7 linked regions of the Homo sapiens genome follow. The protein of the gene in region 3 interacts with the protein of the main gene of each other region in a pairwise test. Each region holds a gene or a part of one and is shown on either strand. Other genes may lie near its edges.

The links.
Region 1: the proteins of RAB3IP (region 3) and PLOD3 interact in binary tests that used the Homo sapiens proteins (3 or more experiments, as listed by UniProt).
Region 2: the proteins of RAB3IP (region 3) and ZBTB16 interact in binary tests that used the Homo sapiens proteins (3 or more experiments, as listed by UniProt).
Region 4: the proteins of RAB3IP (region 3) and TXNDC5 interact in a two-hybrid assay, tested with the Homo sapiens proteins (one large-scale study listed by BioGRID).
Region 5: the proteins of RAB3IP (region 3) and SUV39H2 interact in a two-hybrid assay, tested with the Homo sapiens proteins (one large-scale study listed by BioGRID and IntAct).
Region 6: the proteins of RAB3IP (region 3) and ZNF76 interact in binary tests that used the Homo sapiens proteins (3 or more experiments, as listed by UniProt).
Region 7: the proteins of RAB3IP (region 3) and SSX2 interact in binary tests that used the Homo sapiens proteins (3 or more experiments, as listed by UniProt).

What each region holds. Positions count from the first base shown.
Region 1 is NC_000007.14:101,207,582-101,211,081, forward strand, and holds part of PLOD3 (multifunctional procollagen lysine hydroxylase and glycosyltransferase LH3 precursor), read right to left. Parts: intron 3,093-3,500; coding exon 2,951-3,092; intron 2,864-2,950; coding exon 2,750-2,863; intron 2,581-2,749; coding exon 2,512-2,580; intron 1,377-2,511; coding exon 1,272-1,376; intron 144-1,271; coding exon 1-143. UniProt on the Homo sapiens protein: Multifunctional enzyme that catalyzes a series of essential post-translational modifications on Lys residues in procollagen. Plays a redundant role in catalyzing the formation of hydroxylysine residues in -Xaa-Lys-Gly- sequences in collagens.
Region 2 is NC_000011.10:114,066,211-114,069,710, reverse strand, and holds part of ZBTB16 (zinc finger and BTB domain-containing protein 16), read right to left. Parts: intron 1-3,500. UniProt on the Homo sapiens protein: Acts as a transcriptional repressor. Transcriptional repression may be mediated through recruitment of histone deacetylases to target promoters. May play a role in myeloid maturation and in the development and/or maintenance of other differentiated tissues.
Region 3 is NC_000012.12:69,741,860-69,745,359, forward strand, and holds part of RAB3IP (rab-3A-interacting protein isoform alpha 1), read left to right. Parts: intron 1-3,500. UniProt on the Homo sapiens protein: Guanine nucleotide exchange factor (GEF) which may activate RAB8A and RAB8B. Promotes the exchange of GDP to GTP, converting inactive GDP-bound Rab proteins into their active GTP-bound form.
Region 4 is NC_000006.12:7,883,903-7,886,788, forward strand, and holds part of TXNDC5 (thioredoxin domain-containing protein 5 isoform 1 precursor), read right to left. Parts: intron 2,142-2,886; coding exon 2,059-2,141; intron 587-2,058; coding exon 457-586; intron 1-456. UniProt on the Homo sapiens protein: Protein disulfide isomerase of the endoplasmic reticulum lumen involved in the formation of disulfide bonds in proteins. Can reduce insulin disulfide bonds.
Region 5 is NC_000010.11:14,885,366-14,888,865, reverse strand, and holds part of SUV39H2 (histone-lysine N-methyltransferase SUV39H2), read right to left. Parts: intron 1-3,500. UniProt on the Homo sapiens protein: Histone methyltransferase that specifically trimethylates 'Lys-9' of histone H3 using monomethylated H3 'Lys-9' as substrate.
Region 6 is NC_000006.12:35,262,735-35,266,234, forward strand, and holds part of ZNF76 (zinc finger protein 76), read left to right. Parts: intron 1-3,500. UniProt on the Homo sapiens protein: May be involved in transcriptional regulation.
Region 7 is NC_000023.11:52,700,679-52,704,178, forward strand, and holds part of SSX2 (protein SSX2), read right to left. Parts: intron 1,953-3,500; coding exon 1,903-1,952; intron 1-1,902.

The sequences.
Region 1 (3,500 bases), on a different chromosome or scaffold from region 3:
GTGTGGTAACCGGGAAACAGGCTCTCGGTCATGGGGCCCACATACGTCCGCAGCAGCTGCAGCCACTGGTCCTCGTACCCCACCTGCTTCATGTGGATGTCCACGGTGGGCACATTCTCGTAGCCTCCAGCCAGCCTTGAATCCTGGGGGCGGCGGGCACTGAGCCACCCGCCCCTCCAGCCATGGCGCTCCCCACCCCAGGGCAGTCCAGCCTCCTTCCTCCCGTCCTCCAGCCTTCACACCTGTGTTCCTCTGTGCAGAACAGTCTTCTTTGCTACTTCTCGGCCTGACTCACTGCTCCCGGCCCTTCAAGTCTCAGCTAAGATGTCACCTGTCCTGTGAAGCTCCCTACTCCTCCCAAGTCTGGGTCAAGGCTTCCCCGTGGCTTCTATTGCACCCAGGCTGCTCATCGCAGCCTTAGAAGCTGTGTGGTGGCTGCTGCTCACAGCAGGGCAGAGCTCGACCGGCATGAGGCATTCCTGCAGTGCAGTCTAGGACAGTGGCCCAGGAATGATTTCCTTTTCTCTTTTTTTAGAGACAGAGTCTTGCTCTGTCACCCAGGCTGGAGTACTGCGGCATGATCATAGCTCACTGCAGCCTCTAACTCTGGGGCTCAAGTGATCCTTCTGCCTCAGCCTCCTGAATAGCTGGGACATGCCACCATGCCCGGCTAATTTGTTGGTTTTTCTGAGATGGAGTTTCACTCTTGTTGCCCAGCCTGGAGTTCAATCTTGGCTCACTGCAACCTCTGCCTCCCGGGTTCAAGCAATTCTACCTCAGCTCCCGAGTAGCTGGGACTACAGGCGCCCGCCACCATGCCCGGCTAATTTTGTGTTTTTAGTAGAGATGGGGTTTCTCCATGTTGGTCAGGCTGGTCTCGAACTCCTGACCCCAGGTGATCCACCTGCCTCGGCCTCCCAAAGTGCTGGGATTACAGGCGTGAGCCACCGCACCTGGCCCAAACTCGGCTAATTTTTAAATTTTTTGTAGAGACAGGGTCTCGCTATGTTGCCCAGGCTGGCCTCAAACTCCCCCTGCTCGAGCAATCCTCCCGCCTCAGCCTCCCAAAGTGCTAGGATTACAGGCATGAGCCACTGTGCCCAGCAGTAAATATTTCTTGAATACATGAATGAATGCAGTTGTGACCCCAGGGTCTGCCTCCCCCCTGGGAACCCCTCTTTGCTCCCATTTTCCTGATTCCATTGTTTGTTTACCAGATCCTGCACCTCCTCCTCTGGGAAGGCCTCTGCCCTCCTCGCCCAGGCCCTTACCTCATGCCGGCCGCCTGACCACTGGCCGTAGTGCTCCATCTCTGCCACCAGCTCATCACACATTTGTTCTGACAGCAGTGGGAACCAGTACACGTCCGGGCATGGCTGAGGATGGGGCGAGGGAGAACAGGGCTAGCTGACGCCGCAGAACGGGGAAGGGGACAGGCAGCAGGCAGAATGGGAAGGGGCAGGGAGGAGCAGGGAAGGCTTTGTGAGAGCAGCCGGGGACCCGCCAGGTAGGGGCTGAGGGAGTGGCAAGGCTGAGGACCGGTTTCTGGCACAGGAGAGGTGGCAGAGGGTCCTGGAGCCCCTCGTGCTGGGACAGTGGTTTCCAAACTTCCGTAACAGTGCATACCTCTTTTTTTTTTTTTTGAGATAGGGTATTGCTCTGTCAACCAGGCTGGAGTGCAGTGGCACAATCATAGCTCACTACAGCCTCGACCTTCTGGGCTCAAGCGATCCTCCCGCCTCAGACTCCCAAGTAGCTGGAACTACAGGCACATGCCACCATGCCAAGCTAATTTTTTCTTTTCTTTTTTTTTTGAGACAGGGTCTCGCTGTGTCACCCAAGGTGGAGTGCAGTGGCGTGATCTTGGCTCACTGCAACCTCTGCCTCCCAGGTTCAAGCGATTCTCCCACCTCAGCCTCCCGAGTAGCTGGGACTACAGGTGCACGCCATCACACCTGACTAATTTTTGTGTTTTTTTTTTTTTTTTTTTTGGTAGAGACAGGATTTGCCATGTTGGCCAGGCTGGTCTCGAACTCCTGACCTCAGGTGATCTGCCTGCCTCGGCCTCTCAATGTACTGGGATTACAAGCATGAGCACCACTCCTGGCCTCATTTCTTATTTAATTTTTTTGTTGTTGTTGTAGAGACAGATTCTCGCTATGTTGCCCAGGCTGGTCTTGGACTTCTGGCCTCAACCGATCCACCCACCTTGGCCTCCCAAAGTGCTGGGATTACAGGCATGAGCCACTGAGCCCAGCCCCATTCTTCTTTTAAGATGTGATTTCAAGCATAACACCAGTATACCCAATATACAGGAGAAGAGGCTGTCTGATCAATGCTGGCTTTGGGGGCAAGAGTCCTTTCTGTTCGGCCTCTGCCTTCATCTTGTCTGAACAGAAAACCCTCAGATCTCTGGGGAACTCAGTGTGAAAACTTTGAATCCAGGCGGGGGCCCCCAAGAGGCGATGGCCATGAGGGCAGGGGGTGGGTGGGGAGGCTGCGTGGGCTCACCTGCTCCACGATTCCTTCCCCTTCCAGGGCCCGGCTGTAGTTCTCGTGGATGTACTGCTCCTTCCAGTCCTGTGAGAGGGTGGGGGGCACATCAGATCTGTGCCCCCCTCGCTCCCAGCCCCCAGGGGACCGCCCCCTCCCACTCAGTGTCCTGCGCTGGCAGCAGCCATCACGTTTGGTGTCTTCCTTAGCACAAGGCGGGGAACCTGTGTGCTCTGGGCGTGGGGTCCCCACTCACGACGGGGTTGTCGAAGATCTGCCAGAGGTCGGGGTGCAGGTGCTCCGTGTCGTATCTGGAAGTGGCCAGGAGCCGGCCAAATTCATGCTGATTGCTCAGATGGAGGAAGATGCCCTGTAGTGGGGTGGGGGTGTCCGTGATGCAGGCGATGCCTGGAGTCTGGGGGACTGCCCCCAGGCCAGACCGTGCACCCGCGCTCACCTTGTCTCGAAAGCTCTTACAGAAGGCCATGTCCGGGTCTGTGTCACTGCCCGAGAACACATCCCTCTGGGGCAGCTCCATCCGCAGGGTATCACCCCGGATCACATAGGCCTGGGAGATGTATGGTACATTCCACACACCCCTGGAGGCACCGACACCGCGGTCAGCTGGGAGGACAGCCCCCCAAATTCTGCCCAGCTCATCCCGGGAAGTCCTTCTTCCCTCAGGGTATCCCAGTCCCTGAACATAAGGCCCCTGCATGTCCCTTGTCAAGCACTGCTGGTCCCAACCACCCCACCTCCCAAAATGCGGTCAGTTCCTACCCCAAGCTGTGGCACTTCTTTTTTGTTTCTTGTTTTTGGTTTTTGAGACGGAGTCTTGCTCTGTCACCCAGGCTGGAATGCAGTGGTGTGATCTTGGCTCACTGCAACCTCCACCTCCCAGGTTCAAGCAATTCTCCCACCTTAGCCTCCCAAATAGCTGGGATTAGAGGTGCCAGCCACCATGCCCGGCTGATTTTTGTATTTTTGGTAGAGATGGGGTTTCACCA
Region 2 (3,500 bases), on a different chromosome or scaffold from region 3:
AATTTAGTTTGACATCAGAGGTTCTGGACGGGATGATGAAAGAAAACCAAGAGTCTCAGGAAACCTCAAAAATCCCAAAAGTAGCCTAAACCAAGGTCAACACCTGTTGGCCTTCTACATGATCAACCACTAAAAACAGAGCAGCTGACCATCTGAGAGAGACCAAGGCCAAGGGCCAGGCAGAACTCTGATATCTTAGCCACAAAGCTCATGCACCGTACAGCTGGCTCCACAAAGCCTCTGGGAAGGGCTGTACACACGGATCCAGAAAGCTGGCTCAGACATTCCCTGTGGTTCCTGAGAATCCCTTCAAGAACCAGGCAATAGGCCGGGCGTGGTGGCTCACACCTGTAATCCCAGCACTTTGGGAGGCCGAGGCAGGTGGATCACGAGTTCAGGAGATCGAGACCATACTGGCTAACACGGTGAAACCCTGTCTCTACTAAAAATACAAAAAATTAGCCGGGCGTGGTGGCGGGTGCCTGTAGTCCCAACTACTTGGGAGGCTGAGGCAGGAGAATAGCGTGAACCTGGGAGGCAGAGCTTGCAGTGAGCTGAGATCGCGCCACTGCACTCCAGCCTGGGAGACAGAGCGAGACTCCATCTCCAAAAACAAAAAGGAACCAGGCAAGAGTTGCGACGGTGTCTGTGCAGGACATCCACTGCAGCTGACCTAAGTGCTTGTCTGTATAAGATCCAGAAACCAGACCCCATTGTGCCTCTGCAGCACTAAATTCAGAAACACATAAAGACCAAGCTGCGTGAGCCATGGGAGACTAGGGACTATAAATGAGGACTATGTTCACACTTAAGTCTATAGAACTATACTGTTCCCTGCAATCTTATCGCATATGTACGTAACTCTGAGAATGATCAGGTGCTCCTGGCCTGGATGAGCTGGTTCCTAGACCATTTCCAGAGAAGCCTACATGCAGAACTGCTCCAGCCTTTTGGAATAAGAAAGGGAGGGCCCAGTGTTCCAGAATCCTGAGATGATCTTCCCCTCCCTCAGGCATTATCCTCTGTAATGTGGATGCACTGGTGAAGATTTGGGGGCCCAAAGCTTGCTCCTTCATCTGCCTGCAGAATACTGCTTATCTATCAGATCTTCCCACTGTTCTGACTTCCTTCTGGTTTGTTTAGGTAAGTCAGTCCCATTGGATGCCTTTGTCTGGTCTTCCCACCCATCCATGACTACACTTGACACTGCATCCCTTTTACAGCACGTCATTCCTGCAGTGGACGGCTTGTACATCTTGCTGTCCGCTGCAGGAAACAGGCTCTACAACTCCACTAAGTTTGATTCTCACTATCTGTTGAGCCAACAGCTTACCCTTCACTCCACACCAGCTTGGGATCAAATCATGGGGAAACTTACCGATGACATTCCATAATAAACTCCCTGCCTTCCTGCCTCACTTACCAGCAATCCGCCTTCATTTCCTCTCCATTCCCTTCTGCCCCCCCACCCCAAGAAGAAATGCAAGAAGGACTGCTGGGTATCTAGTCTTTACCAACACTCAGGCCTATTGACTTAAAAATAAAATAAAATAAACCCTGTAGCCTGTTATTTTATCACTGATATATTTCCAGTGAATGCCATGGCTTCCTGGCCTCAAAATCTCCCCTTCTGATTTTTTTTTTTTTTTTGTCTTGGCTTTTTGTTTGTACTGGTTATAGGGCTGTTGTTTTTTTTTTTCCACCATAGCATTTCTCAGACTGCTGATGGGTTGGGGGGAGACAGAGAACAGTAGAAAAAAGGGAATAGCACATTAATCCTGGAGTTTTGAGGGTGAGGGGGAGAAAAAAAGCCTTCTACAAAGTACATCTAGCTGGGACCCGAGGGGCTGTTGATCTGAGTGAGGGCTGAGCACACGCAGGATTATTTTCTCCCCTTTCTGATTTCTTTAGACCCCCAAGCTTCCCATCAAAGGCACTGCCCCTGGCTCTAACTTCTTGGGCTGCAGCTGCTGACTTTCCACCCTCAGTCAAAAGCACATTCTCGGCCCAGCAGGGTGGCACACACCTATAATCCCAGCACTATGGGAGGCCGAGACAGGTGGATCACTTAAGGCCAGGAGTTCCAGGCCAGCCTGACCAACATGGTGAAACCCCATCTCTACTAAAAATACAAAAATTAGTCGGGCATGGTGGTACACATCTGTAGTCCCAGCTGCTCAGGAGGCTGAGGCAGGAGAATCACTTGAACCCGGGAAGTAGAGGTTGCAGTGAGCCAAGATCATGCCACTGCACTGCAGCCTGGGCGACAGAGTAAGACTCTGCCTCAACAACAACAACAACAACAAAAGCACATTCTTCCTGTCAGCAGCCCACATGTGACACGGAGGATTCCAGGGCCAGTGTCTTGCTGTCATATGCTCACAAGGACAGGGACATTCTCTGCACCACCTCACAGTCAACACAACCCTCATGGAGGGTGGCACTGTGGACACTACACACTAGAACTCAGAGCCAATGAGGACCATGCAGAGATGAGGCCTAAACAACACAAGGGACAGATGGTCAGTTCTCCACCGCTGCGGTGACTATGTGCCCATCACAGCTCTAGTGATTTCTGGATCTTACTTCATTAATTCAGCACCAACCCTGTTGACCGTCTCCATTTTAAGAAGTGAGTGAAGGCCGGGCGGGGTGGCTCACAGCTGTAATCCCAGCACTTTGGGAGGCCGAGGTGGATGGATCGCAAGGTCAAGAGATCGAGACCATTCTGGCCAACATGGTGAAACCCTGTCTCTACTAAAAATACAAAAAATTAGCTGGGCGGGGTGACAGGTGCCTGTAGTCCCAGCTACTCAGGAGGCTGAGGCAGGAGAATCGCTTGAACCCGGGAGGTGGAGACTGCAGTGAGCTGAGATCACGCCATTGCACTCCAGCCCGGTGACAGAGCGAGACTCCGTCTCAAAAAAAAAAAAAAAAAAAAATGTAGTGAGTGAAACAAGGCCCAGAAAGGTTAAATAAGTATCACAGGCTCTCACCACTAAATATGGCCAATTCCAATACCCAGGCTCTTTCGAATATAACATGGCCAACTCTCCCTCTCTCCCCAGAGGAATGAGGGTCTTGCTGAAGGGGAACTTGGAAGTCTCAGGAGAGTGGTATCTTTTGTGGCCCTCTCGGGTAAAGAAAAGCAACCAGGAACCAGGACCTGATGAGAGCCAGAAAAACAATTACTTCCCACCATACCCAGTTCTCATAGCACACAGCCGAAATAATTCACATCCGGAAAGATGATACATCTATCTGGTCAACTTTGGGGAGCGGGTTTCCTCTTTAGGAAAGTTTGAGCAAAAACAAACACAACCTCAGTCTATTTCTGAGCGGTACAAGCATCAAGAAGACACACCTTAGTGGCGGTTATTTTTCGCACCCACTGGAAAAAGTCGGCTACGTTTAGCTCTGCCACACTTTCCACAAGTTAAGCCTCTGAGCTGTCGAGGAGGCAGGGTCAGAGCAGATTCCGGCTAGGGGTGATGAGATCA
Region 3 (3,500 bases):
CTTATAATGCTGAAGAACTTTGTAATTTAGCTTTTATGAGATACGTAATGTTAATGTAATATGTAATTCTCATTGTGTCACCAGAGATTTTTTTAAATCAAATACTCATTGAGCATCTACTCTGCAAGTCACAGTAGGGGTTAAAGGAAACTGTTCTTAAGGAATATGGAAGGTAGGGCCTTATAATCATTCCCATATCTTTTATAAGTTCTTCAAAATGTAGAACGCACTTTACATATTTTAATGAATGTCAACTAAGACAAAGTGCTAGGATAGTTGAGTAGTGGAGAGGAAGGACAGATGGATAGTGGGTAGAGATATTTGTGCATTGAGGTAATGAGGGAAAGCTTTGAAGATATTCCAAGGGAGTACGCTTTTTCACACTAAACTTTTTTCCGATATAATTCTGATTAAGATGCAGTTCATCAAAGGATAGTAAATTGGTTACTACGCATTTGATATCCTAAAAACAAAATATCTGAGCTTTTGTAAACTGCTTTCTAGCTTGTTTCTCCTTTTTTATGCTACTATCCTTAGTTGTACCAGATGGTACTCTTTTTAAAAATTTTATGCTTTTATAATACTGAGTACCTCTTTTTTGGTATTTATGAACTTTGATATTTGTGTTGTATTTGTAATTGTTTCTAGGGCCCTAGAAACATGTTTATTGGCAAGGTGGTCTCTTCCTCTAGTCTACAAGTGCTTCGAGAGTAGGGCTTACCTCATTTTATAGCTTTAACATCGGGCCAGGTAAGTACTGTGCTGTGTTTGGTGATGGATGATCAGTTGAAGAATGTTAGGATGTTTTGAAGCTGCTCTAGCAGTAGAAATTGAAATGAACATTGAGAAATGAAGGGACAAAGGAAGGAAGAGGAAGATATTTATACAACTGGGAGCATTAACTTGCTATCTCTATTTTCCCTTCTGCTTTCCTTTTCAACTTACCACTAAATGAGGTAGTTTTATAAGCTTACATCGTACATAGTCATGGTTAGAGAAAAGTGGAAAAAGTAATCTGATTTATCTTAGAATATAGGGCAACACGAAATTAGATAACTATAGCCGTAAACTGATATTACTTAGAGGAAAAAGAATGAAAATTATTCAAATAGTTCAAGTTCATGAAAGATTTGATGCTTGTCGTTAACAGTAGGATTGTAAATATAATCATAATGGCAGTTGATGAAATTCCTCTGAGGGGTATGGATACATACACAAATAAGTATATGAATTGACAGCTTAGTATGAAGAAACTATTCAAGAATGTGAGAATGCCCTATGAGCATAAAGGAGCATATAGATGATAGCTTAGAACCACTTAAATAAGTGAATTGTAATTTGATATGCCCAGATAAAAGTAATAGTATTGAATATTTGTTTGGGAGCATCTGGTTGTCAGATAAGGATAAAGTATAAAAGAAAAACCAAAATAAGTTTGAAAAAACAATAAGCAAATTTGTATCAATTCCCTGTGGGGAAAAGAATCATATTTGAACTACATGCCTCATAAAGACTAGTTTTCCCTTTCTTTCCTTTTACCTAAGATAAATAAAGATACCTTCTGATTTGTAAGACAAACCCCTCAGTATGCTTTTGCTATTTCCCCCATTACATTTTTTTCTTTCTTAGATCTTTATAAAATCATACATTTATGTTGTGCTTTACAATGTATACATTTTTACATTGATATGCCATTTGATTTTCTCAAATGTAGGCAGGGGAGATAATATCACTACCATTATAGATGTCAAAACTGAACCTTAGAGAGATTAAATGACTTGCGTCAGTTCACACAGCTTGTCAGTGACAGAATCTGAACTAGAAGGAAGGTTTTCTGAAGTTAGTCTGTTAAAATGCTCAGGTTTTCTCAAACTTCAATTTCTCCAGTTTTGATACTCTCGCAAAGTATTTACTGTTTCATTTCTATCTTTTTCAGCAAAAATGTAGCCTGAATAACTGTCTCCACTCTTTACCGCTTTGCTATTCATTCCTTCTCTAAAGACTCTTGTTTATTTATTTAGTCAGTGCGTATTTCAGCACCTGTTGAATGTTTAGTTGGCATATATTCTTAAGAGAATATGTAAAATGAAGCTTCCATTATTGAGAAAAAGAAATTTGGAAAATGATTTTTTTAAAAAATTATACTTTTAAGTTCTGGGATACATGTGCAGAATGTGCAGGTTTGTTACATAGGTATACACGTGCCATGGTGGTTTGCTGCACCGGTCAACCCATCATCTACCTTAGGTATTTCTCCTAATGCTATCCCTCCCCTAGCCCGCCACTCCCCCACAGGCCCTGGTGTGTGATATTCCCCTCCCTGTGTCCGTGTGTTCTCATTGTTCATCTCCCACTTATGAGTGAGAACATGCGGTGTTCTGTTAATTTAAATAAATATTTAATTACAAATAAATATTTGTAATTAAATATTAGCTCATTGTATTATTACAAATAATTATTTGTAATTAAATATAATATTAGCTCATAAGTTCAGAACATTTTCTGAAAACTGTCAACATAACACACTGCAATAACTAACATCTCTACACATGTCAGGTTGTACATTGAAGTGTTGTGGAATTAGGCCGGGCATGGTGGCTCACACCTGTAGTCCCAGCACTTGGGAGGTTGAGGCAGACAGTTACTTGAGGTCAGGAGTTCGAGACAAGCCTGGTCAACATGGCAAAACCCCATCTCTACTAAAAATACAAAAAATTAGCTGGGTGTGGTGGCAGGCGCCTGTAATCCCAGCTATTCAGGAGACAGATGTTGCAGTGAGCCGAGATTGTGCCACTGCACTCCAGCCTGGGCGACAGAGCGAGACTGCATCTCAAAAAAAAAAAAAAAAAAGTATTGTGGAATTAGTGGGAATTCATTTGTGATCTATTATAATAAAAATGGGAAAATTGTGTAGCCTGATTGACCATTTGAGTAATTTTGCCCTTGGGCTATTAATTACATTTGCATTTATAAACATAGAATGCTTCTTAAAAGATAAATGTGATTTTTTTTGTCATAACTAAAATGCTAGTTTGGGAAGCCAACTTTAAAATTATTATGAAAGCTAATGAAAAAATGATTTTATATATATACTTGTTTTGTTTTTTCCTCCTTTATTATACAGTATTTGAATAAATTTTGAACTTTCCTTTTTATTTTGAGAGCACTATAAATTATGGAGAGTTTCAAATAAGGTAAGTAGACACAATAGTATAATGAACCTAAAAGTTTCCATCATGTAGCCCAGTAACTATCAACAGTGATCAGTCCTCATCCATCCACTTCTCCCACTTCTATATTATTTTGAAACAAATTGCAAGTCCTGTGTAATTTCACCTGTAGGTATTTCAGTATTTCCCAAAGATAAGAGCAGTTAACTGCAGTACTTTTACAAACTTTGTTCTTTATTTATTTTTTCATTTTAATCTACATTTCCTGCTTTTATTATTACAAATTTTCAAAAATTAACACTAATTCCTTGGTATAAAATATCTACACTT
Region 4 (2,886 bases), on a different chromosome or scaffold from region 3:
GACTTGCTGGCATGGCCCTTTCAGAAAGGAGGTTATGTTGAAATGATTCTTAGATTCAGCCACTGCATTTTATAATGCTGGCTTATGTGTGAAAAATGAGCGACTCGGGTATTTATGGCAAAGGCTACAGACCACTGGTCAATCATCAAGAGTCGCGGTGTGGGAAGCCCCACAGTCTATGGCGTGGGGTCTGTTACTTCACGGCCTTGTTACTCAGACAGCAAGGCCTGAAAACCTGCACTGAAACATGGATACTAACTACAAAGCGGGCGAAGAAGAATGCCTTCCCTTTGAGAGAGGATCTCTTTTGCTTCTCCAAACAAACAACTCAAAGGGACATAAAAACCACATTGTTGAGAAGATGAGAGCAGAGTGAGTTATCGTGGTTGAGGCACAGTTCCCTTGGGATCTGCCCCCATACTGAGAGCTCCCATAAGCATCCATCCAAGTACCCACCGAATACTTGCTGCAGATATTCCGTTCAGCAGTGCAGTCTACTTCGGCGATCTTGACCCCCGCCAGACCAGGGAATTCCTTTTTAGAGAGTTCCTCCCAAGTAGGAGCCAGAGTCTTACAATGACCACACCTAAGACGAGAAAAATGGCAGCTTCGTTGAAATCCTGGGTCGAGATCATTCACCTACACTCTGCTGCCAAGACAAGCTCTGTTTCTTCTGTATGGGACAGTCAACAATTGCCTAGAAATTTGTAAAATACCAAATTCTCCCACTGGGTGCACATTAACTCTTCCTCCTCCTATCCCAAATGAAGAACCCAAAAGTTGATCCAAGGTAGACTTTCAGATAATGTGACAGAAGCAAGCCAGTCTCAAAACAAGTTGAGATTCTGAGACCATTTCCATGCCATGGTGAACTGTGCTAACTGGTTTATGAAAGCACAGGAGCAGAGGAACAGGGAACAGGGCAGATGCCACACAATTTCTAAAAGGTCACTTGAATGCCAAAGACATTTTAGATTTGATTGCTTATGGTCTCACAATTTCAAAACCATTTTAAGGCCTCCTTGGTACTTCAGCGATGTGGGGTGAGCATCAAGGCCATGATTAAGTTTGGTTCAAACCCTCCCTTCTACCCGACTCTGTTCCCTTGTCTCTTCTGACCCCCTCCTGCCGTATGGATGGCTCCCCTTCAGCCAAAGGGGATCCTCCTTTTTGATACTTGATCTGTGGAGCTTTAGGTTTTTAAATGTTGCAAATGATTTGAAAGGCATTGCTATGGTTCGTTCAAGTCCTGTGCTTATTAACTTTTTACCCCTATGGTTAGTTTCTCAGGAACATGTGGAGTGTAACAAACAAGAAAAGTGACGCCTTTATCATGTTTAGATAAACAATCTACTGTTGTCCTAACACTCTGCTTTTCCAAATGGATTGTTTTATTTGTGAAGACAAAAAGTTACTCCCATTTTTCAGCTGAGGGAACTGGGGTTCAAAGGAATTAAAGGACATCCAAGTTTACTATACAGTCATTCACGGTAAGTCTTAGAACCAAGGTTGTCTGGATCTCACACTACCTGCAATCCATTTCTGCTCTGGTCTCCAAGACCACGTGGCATGCAGGTTCAGGAAACTGCGTAGCATACTGAATGGCTCTAACAGACTCTACTGGATTTCTCTACAAAAGAAATCCGAGTACTTAAAAGAACCGAGGAGCAAAGCTACATCATGACACTCATTGTTTAGCCAAAAAGAAAAGCCATCTATTTGGAAAAGTGCAGATACCACAAAACTGAATATGGCCATCATAATTTGCCTCCATTTTTATGTTTTCTCCAAAGTTGATATAACTTTAGCCTCATTCTCCATATATAATCAAAGTTGATATAACTGTAGCCTCATTCTCCATATATAATTAAGGCCATTGAAGTTTAAAATATTTGAATATAGGAGCATGATAACGGTTCCTTATTTCCTACAACATGACCTACATATAAATGTAACATGTGCCCAACATTGAGTCTGGAGGGGTGGCAGATGAGCTGAAAAACATGATGTGACTTAGTACACATGGACAAAGTAGTTTCTAATTAAACAGCCACTTACCATGGAGCATAAAACTTGATGAAGGTTATTCCTTCTGCAATGGTGTCATCGAAGTTATTTTCAGTGAGTGCCAACACAGTGCCCTTCAAGGGAGGAAAAAGCCACAGTTCAAGTACATCCCTTAAAGTTGAGCAGGGCCATGCTTTGGGATTGCAGATACACGAATCAGTAATTTTTTAAAAATGCAGTTACGTAGGCTCCAAGGTCACACAGAAATACCTACACAATCTGCATTTCATAGGCTACACACAAAGGGAGGCTGGCAGCCTCTGAAGGGCAGAGAGATCAATGCAAGTCCCTGGGTCCCAAGCCTGGGAGATGTGGTGAGGAGGTGGCTGGACACTGTACAGGGGATGAAGGTGGGGAGGGGGACTGTCTTTTGGGGATGAGGCAGGTTGAAAACTCTCCAGGGCGCTGTGGTGTGGACCAGGCAGCCCTGGGTGTCTGACACTTGAGTCTGCACCTCTAAGCCTGGAGTCTCCAGGATACCCACTGAAGTCTCATCCTCAGCCGCTTTTCTCACTGGCCACCCTATTCTCCTAGCACCCTTTGTGACATCCTCTCTATGCAACAGAAAGAACCTAGTTACAATAGCAAAGGCAATGATACCTGTTTTACATTGAACATAAAAATGGAAAGCAGCCTGTTCTAAGTCAATGTGAAAAACGCTGATGGAAGCTCTGGCTGGAGAATTTAAGGGAAAGGTGCTACATGGTAGTCTGCTTTAAAGCCATTCTCCCTTGACAGTTCTTTACAGAATGACGTCTATGTGTTTCTCCAAAAATGGATCTGCGATTCTCTCCTGAGAGCAGGAATGGGATGATTTAT
Region 5 (3,500 bases), on a different chromosome or scaffold from region 3:
CCCAAAGTGCTGGGATTACAGGCGTGAGCCACTGCACCCGGCCTGGTTCATTCTTTAATTCATTCCTTTGGCTCTTCTCAGAGGTGCTCTAAGGGCATCAGTGACCCTCCATTACTAAATACAGTGGATTCTTTCCAGTTCTCTGACCTACTGTTTAATACTCTCCTGCTGACATCATCTTTTCTCTGGTTCCCATGATTTACTCTTCCCATTTTCTTTCTTTTTTTTTTTGAGACCGAGTCTCGCTCTGTCACCAGGTTGGAGTGCAGTAGTGCAAACTCGGCTCACTGCAACCTCCGCCTCCTGGGTTCAAGAGATTCTCGTGCCTCAGCTTCCCAAGCAGCTGGGATTATAGGCAAGCGCACCACCATGCCAAGCTAATTTTTATATTTTTAGTAGAGACGGGGTTTCACCATGTTGGCCAGGATGGTCTCAATCTCCTGACCTCATGATCTGCCCGCCTCGGCCTCCCAAAGTGCTGGGATTACAGGTGTGAGCCACTGCGCCCGGCCAACTCTTCCCATTTTCTGACTACCTCTCTTGCCAGTGTGTCTCAGACTCTGACAGTCCTTCCTATGAGTGTCCCCACCTACTCCTCAGGGCTCATCCTCAATCCTTGTTTTCTGCTCACATTTGCTTTGCTTGGGCTACTGCAATCGCCTCTTGCCACCCTCAACCCATTCAGGGCACAACAGCCAGAGTCATGTTTTCAACACATACATCTCAGCATGCTGCTCCCCTGCTTAAAACTACTAAATGGTTCTCTACGCCCTTAAGAGGAAGTCCAAAATCCTTTCCTCGGCCTATGAGGAGCCGCACACTCTGGGGCCTGCCCACCCCGCCAGCCTCACATGCTCCCTCTTACTTGCTCTGTTCCACTCACACCCTCTATTCCTTGAAGGCCCTCTTTCTACTCCTTGAAGTCAGGCTGTCTTCTGCCTCGAAATCCCTCCCACATATCCCTTTCTTCCTTTAGTACTAAGTTGAAACATCAGTTCCTCAGGGATACCTGCCCAGTCTCTCCAGGATAAGTGAGATCTTTCTGTCACATCAACACTTACGTCAACTACAATAAGTACTTTGTCCAACTGTATTTAAGGTATTTCTACCCTCACTGAACGATAAACTCTGTAGTATCAGGGACCGTACCCTCACATCAGTCATTGCTCAGATTCCCAATTCCTAGTGCAGGACATGGTAGATGGCCAGTAAATATTGGCTGAGTTCATGAACAGGAAACTGCATCCACTCCCAAGGCTTCCCTCTCTATCTTTTTGCCAATTACTTTAGGATCTATGTTTCTAGTTAGATCTCACTACTGATTTGAGCCCCACTTCCAGTTGGTTTAAGTTCCACTTAAAATGTCTTCAAGAAAGTACATTTTGAAAGTACTCAAGAAAGTTGAGTATGTTTTAAGTAGAACTTAAACCCACTGGAAATGGGTCCCCAAACCCAATCTAGTTCCTACTCCTGTATTCCTGGTGAACAGTAATACTGTCTACACCACTGCCCAAGTCAGAAACCTGTATTTTCCTAGACCTGGCACCTTCACTACCAGACCCCCACCCAACCCTGTGACCACAAGCCACAGACATACATTTTACATCCTTATTTTTTTTTAAAAAACAAAAGAACCGTGCACCTACTTTTCCTTGACATCGTTAATACTTTAGTCCAAGCACCATTGTTTCTGGTCTGGTTACTATGACAGCCATTCAGAACATGCAGCCATGCACGTGTTATTCCTTTCCCTATCAATCCCCTTTCTTTTTTGCAGAGAGAAAATTCTCTCAATTACAAACCTGATGTGTCACTCTCTTTAGAACCTGCCAACTAACTCCCCATTGCCTTAGGATGGCTGAAAAATCCTTCACTCACCTCTTTCTTTCCCACATCCATCTCCGACCACCTCATTCTCCAGACAGAAGCCCTAGTCAATTACAATGCTCGCCTTTTCAGGCTCCACTTGGACATCACTTCTGGGAAGCTTTCTGTGACCTATCCAAGGTGCACCTCCCACAGATCTTCTAACGATGTTTGCCACAGCACTTTTTATACATCTACACTGCAACGGGTTATTTCTTTGTCAAACTTTCTCACTAGGCTGTGAGTTCTTTATAGTGAGGGAGTTTCTTATTAATCTTTCTATTCCCAGTGCCTAACACAGTGTCTGGCACACAGAAGAAACTCAAATATTTGTTGAGTAAGTATACGAGAAAAAGAAACAGGAGATACGAGTCAACAGAATGCTGCTATCATCTAAGCATGAAGCCAGGAAGGCCTAGTCTAATAGTGAATGTAGGCCCTAGAAACATGACCGAAGCAAAAGACAATTCAATTCAATGACCATGGACCAAACACCCGTTCTGTACCGGGACTAAAATGAGACATAGTCCTGGCCCTCAAATGGTGGATGATTTGGCAGGGAAGATCTGATATAAACAAGACCATAAAGTGCGACAAGTTCTAGAGTAATGGCAAGAATGGTGCTTTGTAAATCCTGAACATAAATCAACTAATTTTGCTGGAGGTGAGGAAGGGCAGGTGGTTCTACAATAGGTGGTGACCTATGCACTGAACTGTGCAGGCTGTGTAGGATTTTGCGGTCCAGGGAAGAGAAATGGTAGTATTCTGAAGAGGGAAATGGATGAGGAAAGGGGACACAAAAGTGCATGATATGTTCAAGGCATTAGAATATAAGCTGGGTCTGTTCTTCAGCTATGTTTCCAATGCTTAGAACAGTGCCTAGCTCATAACAGGTGCTCAGTACATCTTAGCTAAATGAAATGATCTATAAATATTTCAATTTCAGAAAATAGGATATATGACAAGAGATGAGGCTGGAAAGGTGGCGGGTGGCCAGATGATAAAGAACCTTGGTCCTATGCTAACATGTCTCAGATGAGACTGTTAAATAGGGAACCATGAAAAGGTCTAAAGCAAGGCTTGAATGCAATCAGAGCTAGGTTTAAGAAACAACTATAATGGCACGGTAGACTATGGTATTGAGACAGTATCTTTCATGAGCTAAGTGAAGGTGGTCACACAAGAAAAGGACAAGGTCATAAGATCCTTCACCTACTCTGAATTTGTAAAAGAAAGAGAAAGAGAAGAAAAAAGGCAGAGGTATGCTAAAGTAATGCTGGCTTAGAGATTCAATATCTGTGCCAGACAGAAGAAATGGGGGATGTATGTGGGGTACTGAGGACATAAGAGAGCAAAGGAAGGTCACTTATTCCGAAGCAAGAAAAGGGATGAACTGATGAGAAAGACTAAGAAGAAACTAAACAGCAAAAATGATCTGAAACTGAACTACAACACTCAGGATTCCACACAAGAATCTTGGTAGCTCCCTTAATGTAAGCACAGACCCGTAAGTAACTATTACTAATTCTCTCTGTGAAAGCACAGCAGGAATGAACAGGAAAGGACAGAGAGATAGAGATAACATAATATGATAACCCATTAGATTTAGAGAGTAAAAAGAAACGAAGAATTAA
Region 6 (3,500 bases), on a different chromosome or scaffold from region 3:
TCTTGATGTGACTAGCTTCAATGGAATCGGCTCCTTCCATCCCAGCATGAAGCAATCCTGTATAACTTGCACACCCTCCCATTCTAAGGCCTCTCCTCTCATACCCTTGCCCAGTATCCTGTGAGATCCTGCCTCTCAGATTCCTCCCTCACCTTTTCAAACCCGGATTGTCTTTCACCCTTCCACAGGGCCTCCTCTTCCTGCCTTCCTCTTATTTGTCCCCTCAGCCATCCTCACCTCACCAATCTTGATAATTGATTACAATATAAATCTCCCTTCCATCTCAGGTCTGCTCCTTTCTTCCTCCACTCTCTTGTGCATCTATCTCCAGGGCCATGCGTATGCCCCTGCTGCTTTCAGCTCTGCTTCCTTCATATGCTGCACTGTTCCACCAAACTTCATCAGTCTCTTCGGTTTATCCAGAGAACTACACTCTTCTCTGGGAACTTCTGATGACTTCTGATAATAGATCACCAAAGGATCTTGGTTTTTTAGAGGGCAGGGAGAGAGCCCTTTGAAGTCCTTCAGAATCAATCTAGCTGTGTCTCCTGGACACCCTCCCACTATCCTATCCTGTTATGAAGCTGCTTGCTGTATATGCCCTCAGAGTAGAATGCTTTGGGTGTCAGCTTCTGCAGGCACTGAATTAGCCCCATTGTTTTCCAAGCCCTGGGAAAACTTGATAATCCCCAACCACTGAAGTCTGAAGAGTCAGTAGCAAAATGTGACATCAAAGATCCACATCCAAAAGTCTATTCTGTGGGTCACCAAATTCCCAGGTCTCTTATAATGTACTTATTGGCTGTGCAGCAATAAATACAGCAGAAACTAAAACTAGAGTTGAGGAAAGGGTATACCCTGGGTTCTACAACTGCTGTGGGTGGATTTTAAAAAGGAGTTCTTGCCTTAGATTTGTTTACTTAGGGCACAGAACTTATTCTGCCTTGTATTTGAGTTATTTGTGTACTTTTCTCAACCCCACTCTGTGAGCTCTGTGAGAACAGAGACTAGGTTTTCTTTTTTCTTTTCTTTTCGAGATGGAGTCTTACTCTGTCACCCAGGCTGGAGTGCAGTGGTGCAGTCTTGGCTCACTGCAACCTCCTCCTCCTGAGTTCAAGTGATTCTCACACCTCAGCCTCCCAAGTAGCTGGTGTTACAGGCGCCTGCAACCATGCCCAGCTAATTTTTGTATTTTTAGTAGAGACAGGGTTTCACCATGTTGGCCAGACTGATCTCTAACTCCTGACCTCAGGTGATCCACTCGCCTCAGCCTCCCAAAGTGCTAGGATTACAGGCATGAGCCACTGCACCTGGCTGGTTTTCTTTATCTTCTGTCTTCATCTCTTCCCTCACATTTAGCAGGTAGTCAGTACTTACCTGTTGGATTAAATTAACTCACTCAGAAATTCTGCATCAGGTGTACAAAAGTAAAAGCAGTTCATGTCTACATTCATTTTGTGGACACAACACCCCTCCCCAAAGTTCTCCAAACATGATAATGGGCATGTCCCTTGATTTAAACGTCGGTAATTTAGACACTTCCTTTTTTAGTCATTGCTCGGGTGGGGGAATGGGTGTAAGTGCTTTTCTTTTTCTACTGTATTTCTGGTAAGATAGGTTGTTTGACGCAGTTGCTCAAATACAGTGGTAACAGCATCAGGGGCTGTCTTATATAAATCTGTTCTCAAGAAAACAGCTAGTTTGAAATATTTAGTGTGGGTTGCAGAGACGATTAAGGAACAGAGGAAACCAAGGAGGCAAAATGTTGGTAATTTTTGAAGTTGGATAATGGGTTCAAGAGGTTCATTATACCATTCTTTCCATTTTTGTGTATGTTGGAAATCCATTATAAAAAGATTAAAGGCAGGGGCAGCTAGGTGAACAAGTGCAAATTTAGCACTGTTCCTTGGAAAACACCTCAGAGCAAATGAGCTACTGTTTCTGAATCAGTACTGTTATCTAGGTTAAGTAGTATATTTAGTCCTAACCTTTCTCTGACCTCTTCTGTTTGTGAGATATCAGGATGCTAAATTTAAAAATTAGCACCCTGCAGAATTCTGTACCTAGTGGCCTGGGAATTGTAACATCCTGGCATCAAGCACCTGTTGCACTGCTTCTCAGCTTAGGTATGGTTTCTGGTGGAATAGGGCTGGACTGGACCTGAGAAGAGGGTGAGGCAGTAAGGAGGAAAGAGGGACTGAGGGCTGGAGAGAGACCAGAGCTCTACTAGGGTCTTCCCCTTCTTGCCTAAAGGTTTCAAGTTACTGGGAGATCCTAAAGGTATATATATTCATTCATTCACTGATTCATTCATCCCACAAATATTTGGTGAATATCTGCTGTGTGCCAGGTACTTTTCTAGGTACTGGGAATAGAGCAGTGAGCTCACTGTTTGAGGAATGGACAGGGTAGAGACAGACAATAAACAAATAAGTAAAATATATATTGAGAAAATTAAGCAGAGAAGGGAGATAGAAAGTGCCAGGAGTAGGCCAGGTGCAGTGGCACACACCTGTAATCCCAGCACTTTGGGAGGCTGGGTTGGGTAGATAACATGAGGCCAGGAGTTTGAGACCAGCCTGGCCAACATGGCGAAACCCCAGCTCTACTAAAAATACAAAAATTAGCCAGGCGTGGTGGCAGGCACCTGTAATCCCAGCTACTCGGGAGGCTGAGGCACGAGAATCACTTCAACCCAGGAGGCAGAGGTTGCAGTGAGCTGAGATCACGCTGCTGCACTCCAGCCTGGGCGACAGAGCGAGACTCTGTCTCAAAAAAAAAAAAAAAAGAAGAAGAAGAAGAAGAAAATGCCAGGATTCTGGGTGTTAAAATTTTAAATAGGGTAGTTGAAGAGGTTCCCACTAAAAAGGTAACATTTGAGCAAAGACCTGAAGGAAGTTAGGGGGTAAGTCAAGCATACATCTAGGGGAAATTTATTCCAGTCAGGAAGAACAGCAAACACAAAGGCCCTGAGGCAGGAATGTGCCCTATATATTCAAGAAACATGAGGAAGCCAGCCAATACGGCTGCAGTATATTAGTGAGAGAAGAAATGGCAGATGTTGCGGTGGGGGTGAATTGGGGGCAGATCACACAGGCCACTGGCTTGTAGTGTGAGTTGTGAGTGAGATGGTAGCCATTAGAGAATTCTAGGCAGATAAATAACATGGCCTGACATATTGAAAAGGTCATTGTGGCTGCTGTGTTGAGAATAAGCTATAACGGGGCAAAAATGGAAGGAGAGAAACTGGTTAGGAGGCTACTACAATAGTCTAAACAAGAGAAGTTGGTGGCTTGAACCCAAGGTGAAGCAATGGAAAGGTGAGAAGTGGTTGGCTTCTGGATGTATTTGGAAAGGAGCCAACAGGATTTGCTGATGGACTGGATGTGATATATAAAAGAAATAGCAGTTGAGGGTGGCTACAATTTTTTTTTTTTTCAAGACATCTCGCTCTGTCGCCCACGGTGGAGTGCAGTGGCGTGATCTCAGCTCACTGCAAC
Region 7 (3,500 bases), on a different chromosome or scaffold from region 3:
CTCAACAACACTGGGAGAGTTACACAGGCCTAAATTAGGAGAAACCTGGGAGGGGAGGTTAGAAGGGAAAGGAATGGCCTAAGTGAATATGGTTTCCAGGGATAGAATGCTTATCTTCCCACTCTTTTAGGACTGACATTCTTGCAAACAGCAAAAATCTCCATGTAATTGAGAGTGTGATATACAGATGATTTGGAGAAGAGTAGCATTCTAAGAATTCACAAGGTCTACAAAGGGAAGAGGTTCTGTAAAATACAAGGGATCCCATATAAGCTTCTAGACAGCTGCTGGGAGAGTAAATGTAAAAACATAGGGAGGCGACAAAACACTGCTGGGAAAGATGGTGTGGGGAGATGAATACAGGGAAGGGAGAGGGAAAGAAATGGTTTGCCGAAATTAATCTAGGCAGCAAACAAAGCAGTACCAGATATGACATACTACCCTACTGGGGCACCGACATTCAATGTGGAATTCAGTGAGGTGGTACCCATACCAATTCTGGTTGCATTGGGATGTGTCACTGACCAACAATCTTAAGCTACTTTTTTTTTTCTTTCTTTCTTTCTTTTTTTTTTTTTTTTTTTTTTTTTTTGAGACGGAGTCTCACTGTGTCGCCAGACTGGGGTGCCGTGGCATGATATCGGCTCAAGGCAACATCCGACTCCCGCGTTTAAGCGATTCTCCTTCCTTAGCCTCCAGAGTATCTGGGACTACAGGCAGGCACTACCACGCCCCGCTAAGTTTTGTATTTTTAGTAGAGACACGGTTTCACCATGTTGGGCAGGATGGTCTCGATCTCTTGACCTCGTGATCTGCCCGCCTCAGCCTCCCAAAGTGCTGGGATTACAGTCGTGAGCCACCGCGCCCGGCTCTTAAGCTACTTTTCATTCAGCTTCCTCCCTTATGAAATAGTGAACCATACATGTCAAATAGCCTACAGTAAAGTCCTCTCTGAGCTTGTAAACACTGTTTAAATGTCGTAATAATAACAATTAATACCTTTCACAATCCTTCTTTGAATTCAGTCTCCACACTGGCAACCCAACTCCCAGATCCCTTTACCCTCCAAACCAGAGTTGAATCTGCACTTGTGGGATCACTCATTCAGGGGCCTCCGAGGGATCCCCTGGGCTGGGACTGGGCCTTCCCAGATGCCCCAGGTGCAGACAAGGCACTCAAGGAGCTCACAGTAGGGAGGGGCCAACAATCAAAGTGATTCCTAAGCCATGCAAGTGGCCCCAGCAACACAGCAGAGACCAGATGGTCCTTCCTGTTGAGAGAGTGGGTGTCTCATTGGAAGCACCAGCAGGCCCTATGGGGTGAAGCCCTAGTGAGCAACATCTGAACTTCATAGACAAATGCAAATGTGAATGAGCTTTAAATGGCTTGGAGCTCTGGATTAGACTACCACTGCCACTGCGCCCCAGGAAAATTCTTTAACATCTCTGTACCACGATAGCCTCATTTTATTATTATGTTGCTGATAACTATGATCTAAAACATGAACTATAATTCTTTACTTCCATTTCATGGACCAGGAATCTGGAGCTCAGAGAACTTAGAAGATTTGTGTCAAGTCACATGGCTTTCATATGGATGAAAACTGAAGTGTGTGACTCATTATTATTTGGAGATAATAGAAACAATGTCTTCTTAAGGATTAAATAAATTAATCCATGTGAACTGCTTGAAATAGTATCTGGCATCACTATGAAAACAAAAGAAGTATTAACAATCGCAACTGTTGGTACTATCAAGCCGTCGGTGCGACATCAGGTGTTGTGATAGACATGGGGAGAAGAAGGCAGTGAGGGCATTTTTGATATTCTCCCACTCTTACCAGTGTTCGCATCCGTGGAGGGACAAAGGTTCTCTGGTCCTTTAGATCTGAGAGACACTCACCTTCGGGGAGATTCCCTGGAGCCTGCCGAAAGTCATCTGAGGACGTTCAACTGAAAGAGAATACATCAGAATTTTTCTTTGTTGGTAAAGGTTTCCAAACTCTAGAGAGACTTCTGTCGCATCAGGGTATTCTGCAGCAGAGGGTTATGAGTCCACTCATTGTTGAGGAGTTATTTCAGATTTGCTTCTGAATTATGTTTAGTCATGGTTGGTGCATTTATCTGTGGCATCAATTCAGAATTTTCCATCTCATGGTTTATCACATGGGGACTACACCCCATCACAGTCTCATCTTATTCCATTACATATCTTTTACTTTTTCCCAAATAATTAAATTGATTGGTTAGGAATCTGAACTGTATCCACTCAAGATGTGCAACAACTGAAAATCATTGTACACTTCAAATGGGTGAATCTTATGGTATGTGAATTAAGCTGTTAAATGTGTGATGAACCATGGATGATTTGGTCCAGTGGCTCTGAAATATTTTCAGTATAAAGACACTCCTTTACTGTCAAAACTTGGCAGATACTCAAGCACTGGCTTTTCAGGTCTCTTATAGTGATTGCGGGAGATTGTAGAATCTGGCCTGTTTAGTTGGCGAGTAATAGGTCTATTGGAGACGGTTTGGACATTCTGACCTTGTCTTATAATTATGTTGTCAGAGTAGAAGAGCAAGTAAATACATATGTCCCCTTTATATTCCTGAAATGTACAAAGCTCTCTACCCAAGAACCTATCTTTTTTTCACCCTATGTTATCTCTGCTCTCTGACAAGTGGGAAAGCTCTCTGTGTGTTGGATAAGGGATCACTCCTTCAAACTCTCTTCCAAGCTCATTACGGAGAATCAGGGTTCTTTGGGAATGAGAAGACTATTTGGTTTTGATAAACCAATACAGAGAAACAGCGATCTTTATTACATAATGTGTTCATCACCCTCACTCCTAAGATACCTATCCAATACCTACATGCTGTTAATGAAACAAACTCTGGAAGTTTTTGGCGGATCTACAGTTTTAACACTTTCTTTCTTTCTTTCTTTTTTTTTTTTCACTTGTAGCATTTTTTTAGCAGTCCTTTGATTCATTAACGGTGCTTAGGAAGAACAACATGTCGTTTAAAAAAGAAATATTTCAAACACACAGAAAAGTATGGGGAATAATATTGAGTCCAGTCGGATCTCAACATTACCCCACAGCTATGTTAGGTCTGATTTATTTATTCAGAATATTAGAAAAACTGCAAATAGGCCGGGCGTGGTAGCTCACAGTTGTAATCCCAGCACTTTGGAAGGCTGAGGCGGGTGGATCACCTGAGGTCAGGAAGTTTGAGACCAGCCTGGCCAACATGGTGAAACCCCGTCTCTACCATAAATTAAAAAATGAGCTGGGTGTGGGGGCACGTGCCTGTAACCCCAGCTACTCGGGAGGCTGAGGCAGGAGAATCACTTGAACCCAGGAGGTGAAAGTTGGAGTGAGCTGAGATTGCCTTATTGCACTCTACCCTGGCCGAGAAGAGTGAAACTCCATCTCAAAAACAAAAACAAACAAAACACACTATCAACAAGTCACAGCTGAAGCTGTCTGTGCCGCACTC